Homo sapiens: one gene and its partner. The protein of the gene in region 1 purifies or fractionates together with the protein of each later gene. This does not show direct contact. Each region holds a gene or a part of one and is shown on either strand. Other genes may lie near its edges.

What was found. Proteins that work in one complex are often made in the same cells at the same time.
Region 2: the proteins of INTS1 (region 1) and ZMYND8 purify together in Homo sapiens (affinity purification with mass spectrometry, with the first as the bait; one study listed by BioGRID). This does not show direct contact.

The regions. Positions count from the first base shown.
Region 1 is NC_000007.14:1,483,890-1,487,389, forward strand, and holds part of INTS1 (integrator complex subunit 1), read right to left. Parts: coding exon 3,431-3,500; intron 3,213-3,430; coding exon 3,033-3,212; intron 2,886-3,032; coding exon 2,736-2,885; intron 1,581-2,735; coding exon 1,401-1,580; intron 1,314-1,400; coding exon 1,209-1,313; intron 282-1,208; coding exon 114-281; intron 1-113. UniProt on the Homo sapiens protein: Component of the integrator complex, a multiprotein complex that terminates RNA polymerase II (Pol II) transcription in the promoter-proximal region of genes.
Region 2 is NC_000020.11:47,208,714-47,211,206, reverse strand, and holds the end of ZMYND8 (MYND-type zinc finger-containing chromatin reader ZMYND8), read left to right. Parts: intron 1-309; coding exon 310-446; 3' UTR 447-1,993; downstream 1,994-2,493. UniProt on the Homo sapiens protein: Chromatin reader that recognizes dual histone modifications such as histone H3.1 dimethylated at 'Lys-36' and histone H4 acetylated at 'Lys-16' (H3.1K36me2-H4K16ac) and histone H3 methylated at 'Lys-4' and histone H4 acetylated at 'Lys-14' (H3K4me1-H3K14ac).

The sequences.
Region 1 (3,500 bases):
AGGGACCCTGAGCCAGCGCCGAGGGTACCCAGCTGGCACCGAGCGTGCCGTGCAGCCTCACCCAGCCGTAGACCTCCTCGCCCTCACCCGGCCGTAGACCTCCTCGCCCTCACCCAGCTGTAGACCTCCTCGCCCTCCTTGCTCTGCCGCATGCGCCTCACGTAGCGTGAGAAGATGGACAACAGAGCGCTCAGCACGGCGTCCGACGCGGCACTCGGGGAGAGCTTCGAGAAGAGGTGGGACATGATGGTGGAGCGCTCCACGACCAGCCGGGCCACGTCCTGGTGTGTGGACAGGGGGGCGTCAGAGGCTCCGAGACAGCTCTGCTCTCCGGCCAGCTGGGGTGACCTCGTCGCAGGCACGCTCTCACTGGGATCTTAAGCAGGGCCCGCGGCACCGCAGACCCTCACTCAGCCGCAGGCCGCCAGGGAAGACGACCAGAGCTGGGTCGGACTCTCCAGGGGGGAGGGAGGACACGACTCTCACAGCCAGGGACAATGACCAGGCCCTGAAAGCGGACGCTGCTGCCCTCTGCCCGGCAGCCACCATCTGTTCACCTATCGCTCATTCCCTGAGGACTCGGGCCACCAACTTTCACTAGGTCACAGCGCAGGTTGTGGACAAGAGAACCGTGATGCAAAGTGAGAAGCAGCCCAGCAGAGAAGGACAGCACCCAGGAGAGAAGATGGGAGTCAGCGCCACACATGTGAGCTAGAGATGCTGAGGACAGCGGGCAGGTGCCCAGCGACCTGGGCCCACAGCCCAAACCCTCCTGGCGTCGGGGAGAAGGCTGATGGCTCAGATTCCACCCTGCTGTGAACAAGGCACCCTCACCCCCGTGGCTTCGCATCCTCAGGGTCTGGGGAGAAAGGCTCCAGGGAGTGAGTGGTGACTAAGGAAGGGACACAGGTGGCCACGGGGTCATAGAAGCCCCAGCACAGCAGCCGTGACGGCCCTCCCACCCTCAATGCCTCCCTGTGGCCCAAGAAGCCGCCAGCCCAGGGCACTGCACCACTGGCCCCTTACCCTCCCCAGGGCAGGGTCTCTGTGCTGACCCCGTCCCCTCCCCAGGGCCACACTGCCGGCTGGCCCCGTCCCCTCCCCAGGGCCACACTGCCGGCTGGCCCCGTCCCCTCCCCAGGGCCACACTGCCGGCTGGCCCCGTCCCCTCCCCAGGGCCACACTGCTGGCTGACCCTGCTGCCTCACCAGGGCCAGGTCGCTGTGCTGGGCCTGCTCCTCCACAGGCGTGTGCTGGGACAAGTAGATCAGGTAGGCGCTGATGGTCTGGGGATCAGTCTCCATGTGGATTGCCTGGAGGGGAGGGTGGTCTGAGCGGCAACAGGGCAGGGCTGCGGCCCTCTCATCTTTCCCTGCCGCGGCCCCGGTCAGCGCCCTCACCTGCTGCAGGGCCAGGGCTGTGGTGCTCCTGACGCTGTCGAACAGAGGCAGGCGAGGCAGGTCCCGCAGCAGCCACTGATAGCCCTGCAGCACATCTGTGTCCCCCACATCCTCCTCCATGGGGGGCTCCTTCTCCTCCCCGTCCCGCAGGCTGCCCTCCGAAAGCACCAGCGACAAACCCTGTGGCAGACACTCATGAGCTGGGCCGGCTTTCGGCAGTGCAGGCAGGGTCTCACCCTGGCCCCGGGAGCACACGCATGGTGCCCTCAGAGCCCCGAGGAGAATGTGGCGCTTGCTTCCCACGGGAGAGGCCGCAGGTAAAAGGGAAAAACGAGACTGAGCTCTTTCTGTTAAATGCTTCTGTTCAAGTTCCTGAAGCCACTCTGGACCCTCCCGTCACCAGCAAGAAAGGAACACCAGGCAGGCGGCAGGGTCCACCTTCACGTTTCACTAGCGCATCCTTCCTACGCAGGGAAGGAACTTAAAATACAGTCAGAGTGCACTGAACACTCATTTGATTTTTACTTTTCCTTTTTAAGACAGGGTCTCATTCTGTTGCCTAGGCTGGAGTGCAGTGGTGTGATCACAGCTCACTACAGCCTCAAGTGATTCTCCCATCTCAGCCTCCCAAGTGGCTTGGACCACAGGTGCATGCTGCCACACCCAGCTCATTTTTCTCATCTTTTATTTTTTGTAGAGATGGGTATCATTATGTTGCCCAGGCTGGTCTCAAACTCCTGGGCTCAAGTGATCCTCCTGCCTCAGCTTCCCAAGTAGCTGGGAACACAGGCACACACTACCACACCTGGCTAATTTTTTCAGTTTTTGTAGAGAGAGGATCTTCCTGTGTTGCCCAGGCTGGTCTCAAACTCCTGGACTCAAGTGATGCTCCCACCTCGGCCTCCCAAAGTGCTGGGATGACAAGAGCAAGCCACTGCCCCAGGCCTACTCATTTTACTTCTTTATTTTTCATTTATTTATTTTTTTTTTTTTGAGATGGAGTTTCACTTGTTGCCCAGGCTGGAGTACAGTGGCACAATCTTGGCTCACCTCAACCTCCGCCTCCTAGGTACAAGCGAGTCTCCTGCCTCAGCCTCCAGAGTACCTGGGATTACAGGCCCCCTCCACCACGCCCAGCTAATTTTTTCTATTTTTAATAGAGACGGGATTTCACCATGTTGGCCAGGCTGGTCTCCAACTCCTGACCTCAGGTAATCTGCCTGCCTTGGCCTCCCAAAGTGCTGGGATGACAGGCGTGAGCCACCGTGCCCGGTCCCCAGCCTACTCATTTTAAACATGAAGAGCGTGCGCAGAAAGACCCGCCCACCACCTCACCTTCATGGCCAGCACGCGGGAGGCCACCTGGGAGGAGCCGAGGCGCCGCAAGAAGTAGTCCAGCACCTCACACGTGGTCTGCTCATCAGCCTTCGGGCCCAGTAGCAGGTCCTGCAGGCGGCCCAGCAGCTGCCGCTGCTTCTGTTGCCTCTGCAGGGAGGAAGGGGCTCTCAGGGGTGCAGGTGACAGGCCAGGCGGGTAGGACGTGGGGTGCGCGGCTGGTGGGCTCAGGCATGGGTTGCCCTGACAGGGGTGCGGGGTGAGAGGCGGGGGGGCTGAGGGGTGGGCGGCCCTGACCTGCCGCTTCTTGGCCTTCTGCTCCTTGCTCTCGCCCTCGTCGTCCTCCTCCCCGGAAGCAGCATCGTCCACAGCATCGTGCAGCAGGAACTCGCACAGACACTGCACGGGCAGCACGTCCAGGGAGCCCTCGCTGGACTGTACCAGGTCCGCCAGCCAGGGCATGGACTGCGAGGAGGCCTGGGCAGGCGACAGTGGCGCCCGCTCAGCACCTTCCAGGCCCAACACCTGCCGCCAGCCCCCCGGGTGACCGCGGAGCCGGAAAGGGCGACACGCAGCAGCCAGCTCATGGGCCCCGCATCCAGGTGTGTCCTGCCCTCTTCTGGCCACCAAGGCCTCCGGAAGGTTCCGGGCCTCCCAAGACCACCATCTCTACCTCCTGGAGCCTCGGCACTCACCTGCCGCTGGATGATGTGGAGGAGAAAGTCAGGGTTTCGGCTGCGGCACAAGAGGTGCCCGAGGCGGAGG
Region 2 (2,493 bases), on another chromosome or scaffold:
GGTTCCAGACACGGCACAAGAAATGCCTTCCTTGGCAGTTCAGCACCTTTTCTACAAATCTTTATTCTCTGTGAGCATGACACCCTACCGTTTTTTCAACCGGTTGTCGTTAAATCCTAAAAAATAAGTTGTTCTACCTTTCTGTTCTACAGACCCACAGATGCAGGGCAGTCAGCGGTGGCAGTGTTTGAACCATCAATTGGGAGGGGAAGGTGGTTTCCTGTGCAGGAGGGGCAGGTCAGATTGCAGGATAGTTGTGCTCAGGCGCAGGTGGGCAGGCACGCTAAACACATTGGTTTTCCCCCTCAGACCATTCCCGGAGTAATAAATCCAGTTGGAGCAGCAGTGATGAGAAGAGGGGATCGACACGTTCCGATCACAACACCAGTACCAGCACGAAGAGCCTCCTCCCGAAAGAGTCTCGGCTGGACACCTTCTGGGACTAGCAGTGAATCGGGACACAAACCACCCACCCCATTGGGAGAAAAACCCAGACGCCAGGAAAAGAAGAAACAACAAAGGCAGGAGAACAGCCACTTTCAGACTTGAAAATGACAAAACCCTCAGTTGAGCCTGAGCCCCCGGCGCGGGGGCTGCTACACTACAGGACACCCAGCATCGGCTTTGACTGCAGACTGTTCACCCACACGAGCCCTGTGCTTTTGGTGTAAATAATGTACAATTTGTGGATGTCATTGAATCTAGAGGACTTTCCCCTTTTTATATTTGTATTAACTTTAACTTATTAAAAAAAAAAAAAGAAAAAGAAAAACGATTTAAAAAAAAAAAAAAAAGCAACCAACCCCAACAACAAAAAAGAATGTTTTGGTATTGGAGAAGGGATGGTCAGTTAGCCTGTCTGTCACACGACGGAATGGATACTGGGCCCGGGGACCACTTTCATACTCACGTCCTCATCCTTGGATACCCAGGGGAGGGCGAACCGTTTTCGCTCGTGTGTCTGTACGCAGCATGTTGGGATCGGGAGTTTCGGCACAGACTATCCCATCAAGCCGTTGGCTCCTTTCAGCTACTACGTTACCACGTTCCTAAAACGCAAGCTCTCCGGACCAGACGGACACAGGGAGAAGCTAGTTTCTTTCATGTGATTGAAATGATGACTCTACTCCTAAAAGGGAAAAAACAATATCCTTGTTTACAGAAGAGAAACAAACAAGCCCCACTCAGCTCAGTCACAGGAGAGAACACAGAAAGTCTTAGGATCATGAACTCTGAAAAAAAGAGAAACCTTATCTTTGCTTTGTGGTTCCTTTAAACACACTCACACACACTTGGTCAGAGATGCTGTGCTTCTTGGAAGCAAGGACTCAAAGGCAAGGTGCACGCAGAGGACGTTTGAGTCTGGGATGAAGCATGTACGTATTATTTATATGATGGAATTTCACGTTTTTATGTAAGCATGAAACACAGGCAGTATGAGAGAAAGCAAGGCCCGTCATGCTGTCCGTACACTACGTATGCTGTAGAGCCATTTTGTATGTTGTGTAAAACAAAAAGCATTGATGAAAAAGCAAAAGGTGATGTATGTATATGAGAAAATTAATTGTACGATATCATTCCAGTACGTTTTGTTGTACATTTTAGTCTTGTTTACTTTCTCTTCATTGTTAAGAGGATGCGAACTGTACAGTTTCCAGCTAGTTACCCATATTAGAGAAGAAATAAGAGAGTATTAGAAGAAAACAGGAGAGAAAGAACATTTGTGAATTGCAGTTGTCAAAAAAAAAAAATAGCCTAGCTGGCCTTATTTGTGAAGCATAATTGCTTTTAGCATATGGAAGTATTTTTTCACATTTTCTTTGTATAAAATTTGTATTAAACTTAAATATCTTTTTGATGGTGGTGTTTCTTTGTGACTGAGCCAGTAGACTCACACTATATGCTTTTTTGGGTTTGCCCGTTCCTTCCCCCACCCCCCCAGTTTTTTCAGATTTCTTTACCTTTTTTTAATTAAACTGTTTTGGAAAAATGCCGTGGTCGTCCTCGAATTTGCAGTTTTCCATTTGGTCGGGATGGCTGTGTCAGGTTTGCACGACCAAACACAGAAGGGGCCGTGAGAGGTCATGAACACCCCCCACAGCCAGGTGGTGGGCACACTGGAGAGAATGGGCCCTAGTGGGTGCCCCCCACGCCAGTCCTCGTCAAACAGTTGGGAGAGGACGGAGTTGTCTTCTTGAAGCCCGTAGGGAGGCCGAGCTAACAGGCCTCGCGTGGGCAGCAAGGATCCCAGCCCCTCGCAGGTGCCCTGGTCCATGGCTCTGGGCCTGGCTGGAGGTGCACAGGGTATGAGTAGAATGAAGCCGGCTTGAAAGGCTGAGGTTTGGTTTCCTGGGCAGCAGTGTTCCTTCTCTGCAATCCAGTAACTCCCCAGAAAAGATCTCCACAAACCCCTTCCTGTGCCAAGGGCCAAGACATGACATGGCCGGCAGGGGAGGTTGGCCCGCGTGGGCATAAGTTCATTCCTGCCAATCA